2 linked regions of the Homo sapiens genome follow. The protein of the gene in region 1 purifies or fractionates together with the protein of each later gene. This does not show direct contact. Each region holds a gene or a part of one and is shown on either strand. Other genes may lie near its edges.

Region 1 (3,500 bases):
AAAAAGAAAAGAAAAGAAAAATTCGCTGGGTGTAGTCACAAGTGCCTGTGATCTCAGCTACTCGGGAGGCTGAGATGGGAGAATCACTTGAGCCCAGGAGGCAGAGGTTGCAGTGAGCTGAGATTGCGCCAACCACACTCCAGTCTGGGTGACAGAGGGAGACCGTGTCTCAAAAAAAAAAAAAAAAAAAAAAAAAAAAGATGTTTTCCACTATTCTCTATTGCAGTATTTCAACAAGGTATGGGTTAAGTAAGATATTTTGGATTGGCCTCAGTCCTTTTGCATAAAATTTTTAAATAAAAAAATTGGTTAAAATGAAATACAATTTAAAACTCAGTTCTTCATTTGCACTGGCAACATTTCAAGCATTCAGTAACCACTTGTAACCAGTAGCTATCATAGTGGACCACGTAGATATAGAATGTGTTCATCATCTTGGGAAGTCCTGTTGGGTTGCATTACTCCATAAGTTCTTTCCACCCAAATAAGATTTAATGATGGCAACTCAGTTTCTTTGCTTCACATCCTAAGTCTATCATTCTGAGACCCACAGTCCATGATTCTATGATTCTGAGGTATCCCCCCTGTTCTAACGTTCAGTGGCTTTTTAACGTCCAAGGAGAGCCCAAAGGAGGCCCTTTATGTTTTGAGGGACAAACCTGGGGGCTGGCTGTACTTTTCCATCCTCAGAGTCTTTCCAGAGAGAGAAGTGACCTCAGCTTCAGGTCCTGCTGGCAGCCAAGGACGGGTTTTCAGCAGTCTCCAGAGCAAATAAAGGCAAAAGGAAGGGACTCGATGTACGGAACAGGAGGCAGTGGCGGCTGGGAGGGGGCTAAAACTGTCTGCATTTGATGGCCACCATGCCAAGGGAAATATGCCTTCTCTTCCTCCCCTGGCCCTGGGCATTTTCCTTCCCAGGAACTCAGGCCAGTTCAAGGCCCAACTGAGCCCCATTCAGGTGACCACCTGGGAGCGGGTAGCTGCCAAGGGAAATAGTGTGCAGAGGTAGAGACATACCAGTGGTGGGGTAGGGTTGCACGGGTTCTCACCCTAGCCCTGCCACCCAGTCACTCACTCACTGCTGTTAGCCGTTGGCAGTTTTCTCCTTTCCTCTAGGCCTTGGTCTTCTCATCTGTACTATTGGGCAGAAATATGTGACTTGAGCCCCCAGTGGGGTGCTGGATTATGAAAACACCCTGAAAATGATAAATGTATGCATCATCACAGACTAAAGAAATACAAAGGAGGGAGTTTTTGTTTAATATTGGTCATTTATATGAAGGGAATTTAAATTTTCGCCAGGCACGCTACACCTAGGTTTGATTGGCAAAGGATCACAGCTGTGAGTTCTGAATGCTGGGGTTTGATACTGTGTTCTGACCTTGCTGGGGTGACTGTTATACTCCATTAGCTTTGCAGGATGGACACAGGGCTCTTTGGTCAGTGGTAGTTTAGAGAGCCTCAGAGAGGTATCTCGTGGGGAGGCAGGGAGATGGCTGTGCATCTGGAATAGTTCAGCCGCTTCCCTTCCCTCCCATCTCATCATCTGGGGGAAAAGTGCTCTTGGACTGGTGGTGTAGCACCGGGTGCTGGGCAGGACCCAGATTTTGTGTTTGTGTTTACAGTTTTCTTCCAAAACTTTTAAGGTGTATTCCAAGATTTTGCGTTCTGTTCTTAACAGTCTCTCTGCATTTCTCCCCCACTCCCACTTGTCTGAGCGTAATTCCTATTAGGCTCACCCCAACTCCATGAGTGAGAACGCTTGCCTATTTGGAGAGGGCCTGAATTGTTGCATGACTTTGGACAAGTGCTTCCTCCCTCTCAACCTCAGATTCCCCATTAGGACAGTGGGACTAAGAACCCTTCCATGCCTGTCTGCCTACTTCCCAGCATTGTCAGAAGGCTCTAGGAGACAGTGTTATGTGACAGTGCTTTAGAAACTATGAAGCAGCACTATAAGACTTAGAGTTATTTTTCTCTTCTGGCTGCAACAGCAGGGATGGGGGTGGCAGGGAGGGTGAGTGTGCAGCTGGAAAAGGAATTCAGGAAGATGAGGAGGCAGGACAGACAGAAGAGCCGCCCAGCGAAACCTTCCCCTGGTCACAGAGGGGAGCGCGGTTACTCTGCTCATATGAAGGACGCAGACTCAGGGAAATGTCTGTCTTCCTGTCTTTCTAATCTGAAGCTTACTACATTTCCAGTCCTAGCTGGGCTATTTCTTCAATAACATGACTTCCCTGTCATTATAGCTCAGACAGGGTAACTTTTTGTTTTGTTTTGTTTTAGCTGCTATTTCACTTTGATCCTTCAACCTCAAACTATCTCAGACAAGTCCTTCCTTGATGTTTTCTTTTCTGTTCCATTTGTCCCAAGCCACATGCAGGAGTTATTTATCTTGCGTCTTCCAAAAGGGGAAGCAAGAAGGGAGATTTTTCCACTTAAGCCTGGGGAACAAGTGAACAACTGTGTGAGGGGAGGAACATTCCACAAGCTGCCTCAAAAGGGAAGACTAGACTCCTCTGGAAGTTGGGGTTATTGTGAAGCAATACCAAACCCCCAGGTCCTTTACATTTCTGTTAGTTTTACTTCATTCACTCTGTGCAATAGGGGGTGAGGTTTTGTGTCTCTTTAAGCCCAAGAAAGGACCATTATGAAGTGGGCTCTTCCTCTGCCTGTTTCTGCTTCCCAAATGCTATAGTACAAGTGAAGACATATGATCCCAGAGGAGACCATATGTGTCAAGACCAGAATGTGCTTGGGGTGTCTTAAGAGCATTTTAAGGACCGAGGCTGCCACTTCAAAGTTCACCTAGTCTACCCATTTCAATTGATAGATGGGGGAACCAAGGTCTAGAGAGACCAAAAGACTTGATACTACTGTGGTAGAACAAGACCCCCTGGCATTTAATTTCAAGCTGAGTATTTTTCTCCATGATGCCGGGTTACCTCCCACCACCATTTGGTCAGTTGAGAAGTCTTGGAAGAAATAAGGGATGATGAGCCTGACAGGGAGGTTTTGGGAGAAGAAAGAGGGAAGACATGGCCACTGTTGCTCCTGATGGAAGGTTATTTGTGGGTAGAGAGAGCAGGTTTGTTCTTTGTGGCTGCAGGGGAGATGGGGTAGACAGATCAGAAAGTTTGAGGGAGGCACATTTAGATCAGTAAAAGAAAGAACTTTCTAAAGTCACTTGAGAATGAAAAGCCATTTAGTTAGTGCAAGAAATGAAATGTCTCCACCACAGAGCCTCTGTTAGGAATAGCATTTTAGTTTTGAATCCTCAGAGGAGATACTGCTCCAAAATCCCTTATAGTCATGAGAGTATTAGAGTCTAGAGCTTGGCATTTAGAGAATGAGGCCTTAACAGTTACCAGAACAGAGGTATTTTCTAGATCTCAGCTAACATCCCCTCTGCAACACATGGAAGCATCTGGATGGTTTCCGTACAGGACCTAAAGAAGTGCTGTCTCTTCTGGGTAGAATGGAGAAAAATGTGGCCACCC
Region 2 (3,500 bases), on another chromosome or scaffold:
GCTGTGGCTAAGGTGGAGTCACCTGCAAAGAACATGGCCATACTGGCCTTCTCCTTTGACAGGTACAACAGGTAGGGGAAGTTATCTAAGTGGGAAGTAGGAAGGCTAGGCACCCCAAACTCCTACACTCCACTAAGAAATTGCATATTAACCTTGGCTAAGAAAACACCCACACACACTTCCAAACTAGTTGAAGATCGAAGAAATTAGGGTGCATATGGTATGAACCGAGTTCTATTCTGTAACTATACACCTTAGATCTTGATGGGATGAAACAGAGAAGAAAGTGATAACTTATGTGCTGTGAACAAACAAACCATTGGTTGTTTATCTCTTGAACTAAAAGTGGAGATTTTCAATATTCAAATGGCAGCGTGAAGCTTCTGCTTATATAGTTTCATATCTCAGCTGACTGCAAAGGCAAGAGCCAATAGCCCTCCACTGCTCTGAATAACTAAACCATTTCAGTCTTTTCTACCTGTCTTCCATGCTATATGCACTCTATTGTCCTGGCTTTAATAACCAATAATTTAGATATAAAACTTTGTGTCTATATGTGTTTGCACATTTTGCAAAAGATTGGCCATACTTTTCATAAGATTTACAAACTGGCCCAGTGCAGTGACGGATGCCTGTAATCCCAGCACTTTGGAGGCCAAGGTGGGTGGATCACTGGAGCCCAGGAGTTCAAGACCAGCCAGTGCAACATGGAGAAACCCCATCTCTACAAAAAATACAAAAATTCACCGGGCGTGGTGGCACATGCCTGTGGTCCCAGCTACTCAGGGAGCTGAGGCAGGAAGATCACTTGAGCCCAGGAGGTTGAAGCTGAAGTGAGCCATGATTGTACCACTGCACTCCAGCCTAGGTGACAGAATGAGACCCTATCTGGAAAAAAAAAAAAAAAAAAAAAAAAATTTACAAAGTGGTGTCAGACCCAAGAAAGCCTAGAACCTGGAGAGATCAATAGCACAATAGACTAGGAGTCTGTCTACTTTCTCATTTTGCTCTTTTATTTGTATTATTTATTTATTCTTAAGCAATTCTAGTAAGTTTTCTGATGCTTTCCTTAGAAGAATGTTTTCAGTTAAAGTAGTTTGAGGCCGGGAGCGGTGGCTCACGCCTGTAATCCCAGCACCTTGGGTGGCCGAGGCGGGCAGATCACGAGGTCAGGAGATCAAGACCTTCCTGGCTAACATGGTGAAACCCCGTCTCTACAAAAAATACAAAAAATTAGCCGGGCGTGGTGGCGGGCGCCTGTAGTCCCAGCTACTCAGGAAGCTGAGGCAGGAGAATGGCGTGAACCCAGGAGGCGGAGCTTGCAGTGAGCCGAGATCGCACCACTGTACTCCAGCCTGGGTGACAGAGCAAGACTCCGTCTCAACAAAAGAAAAAAAAAAAAGTAGTTTGCATGGCATTTAGAAAATGGAAAGCAAAAGCACCAATTAAGCAAGGAAGTCTTGCCTCAAACCTGCATGTGTTTCTTCTATAAACACCAGCACTATTCTTATAAGTGTACAGAGCACTCACCGACACTGAAAACCATGGAACCCTGAGTCATGTATTATGCTTCCCCATGTAGACTTCGCAGCTGTCTTTTAACTCTACCTTTTATCTTCAAAGTTCAAGGAAACATTTATTATGATTTCAAATTCCTGAACTCACATCTAGTCCTAAAGTCAAAACAATATAACTTGGTATCTAAATCAACTGAAATGAAATGAAATGCACTTGGCAAAATCACCCTTTTATGTAGTGGTGGAATGCTAACAACTGCCCTGTGACCATCCTGTGCAAATCCACCCTTGGCCTCATCCCAGGATATACCCAAACTTCGTCTCAACTGTGTCTCTTTGTCAGTCACGTTAAGAGACAGCTGTGGAATGTTTGGTCTAGAATATCCCAACAGGTGCTCCTTCCGTCTCAACTTCTATGGAGTCAAATAGAATTTGATCTGTAATCCTATGTCCCAGGCTTCCTAAGTCTTCCTAAAGCAGATATCCATTTATAGTCAAAACAGCAAAAACAGTTCTCACACTGAGGGATAAACCGTAAATGCAATTGATGAAACATTCAAATCTACACACCGAAATAAAGAACTGACAAATGAATTTGTTCTTTTTAGATTAAAGACTATTCTTAATGGAACTAGCTGAGTTTTGCAAGTATTTCACAACTTTCAATAAGAAAGAGCCATATGTTTTTCAGTATGACTTCAGTTTATTACTTGTAATTTCCTCTATTTTTTTCTTTATTGGTCTTCCCTGTTTCCATTCTTCCATTTTCCTGTATTTTTGGGACATAACTGTCTCTTTCTTTTAGAGTTTGTTTTTCCCATTAATTACTGAACACAAGAAAAATGTTTTGCAAAATAGTCTTTCCCACCAAAAAGGTATAACAGTAGAAAAACGTTTATGTGACATGCTATGCTGTATTCATAAGGTAATCTAATTTCCAAGCTATTTTAAGGATATGAGTACTCAATTTTTAGGGGAAAGATAATTTAGCTTTGTGGACTTTAGAGCACAAATTATAAGCATAGTTGAAACTGATACCTGAACCTGGTGTTCCAGAAAAGACAGATTCTCCTTTGCGTTCACCATTGACATTGTGAGTCACTGACAAGGTCTTATGATGAAACTGTTTACCAATATTTGCAAAGTCATGTTTATGAATAAAAGCACCTAAATGCTTAATTTTGAAACATTTAAAAAATGTGAGTTGCACCTCACATTTATTTCTTGGCTGAACTGCATACAATCCCATTGCAGTGGCCTTAGTTGAATGGACAGAGGCTCAGGAAAGGCCAACAGTAGGAACATTTACCATATGTTAGGTGAAATGTATAGACCAGTTGGACAGCTGTTAAGGGGATAATGTTACAATACAAAAGCTGCCTATATTTTTGACAGTAAAATGAGCAGATCAGCCATAGTTTCCTCCTGTGCTCAAAAAGAATGATAGCACATGCCTGTAATCCCAGCACTTTGGGAGGCCGAGATGGGCAGATCGCTTGAGGCCAGGAGTTCCAGACCAGCCTGGCCAACATGGCAAAACTCCGTCTTTACAAAAAAATACGAAAATTAGCTGGGCATGGTGGTAATCCCAGCTTCTCAGGAGGCTGAGGCACAAGAATTGCTTGAACCTAGGAGGCAGAGGTTGCAGTGAGTAGAGATCACTCTGCGGCACTCCAGCCTGAACAACACAGTGAGATTCTGTCAAAAAAAAGAAAAGAAAAAAGAATGATAGCATCATATAGAAAGTAGAGGATAGCTGGCACAATTATGTCTATCATGGAAGGTCCCAGATTCTCACTCTCCAGTATAGCAACCAAACCTTCCTGAGCATAAGGCTGATCATGCCACTGGGTTTCCCTGGGGTGGGCATCTGTTATTTAAAGAAACTGTGGTTACCAACACTAAAGGGAAATAAAGAAAGTTCTTTATTTTCCAACTTCCTATACCAGTTGAGAAGAGGCCATTTAAAGAAGCTGGCAACCT

Evidence for each region. The genes of interacting proteins can lie anywhere in the genome.
Region 2: the proteins of SPARC (region 1) and BCAT1 fractionate together in Homo sapiens (co-fractionation; one large-scale study listed by BioGRID). This does not show direct contact.

Annotation. Positions count from the first base shown.
Region 1 is NC_000005.10:151,676,916-151,680,415, reverse strand, and holds part of SPARC (SPARC isoform 1 precursor), read left to right. Parts: intron 1-659; exon of another isoform or gene 660-760; intron 761-1,079; exon of another isoform or gene 1,080-1,196; intron 1,197-3,368; exon of another isoform or gene 3,369-3,471; intron 3,472-3,500.
Region 2 is NC_000012.12:24,942,602-24,946,101, forward strand, and holds part of BCAT1 (branched-chain-amino-acid aminotransferase, cytosolic), read right to left. Parts: intron 1-3,500.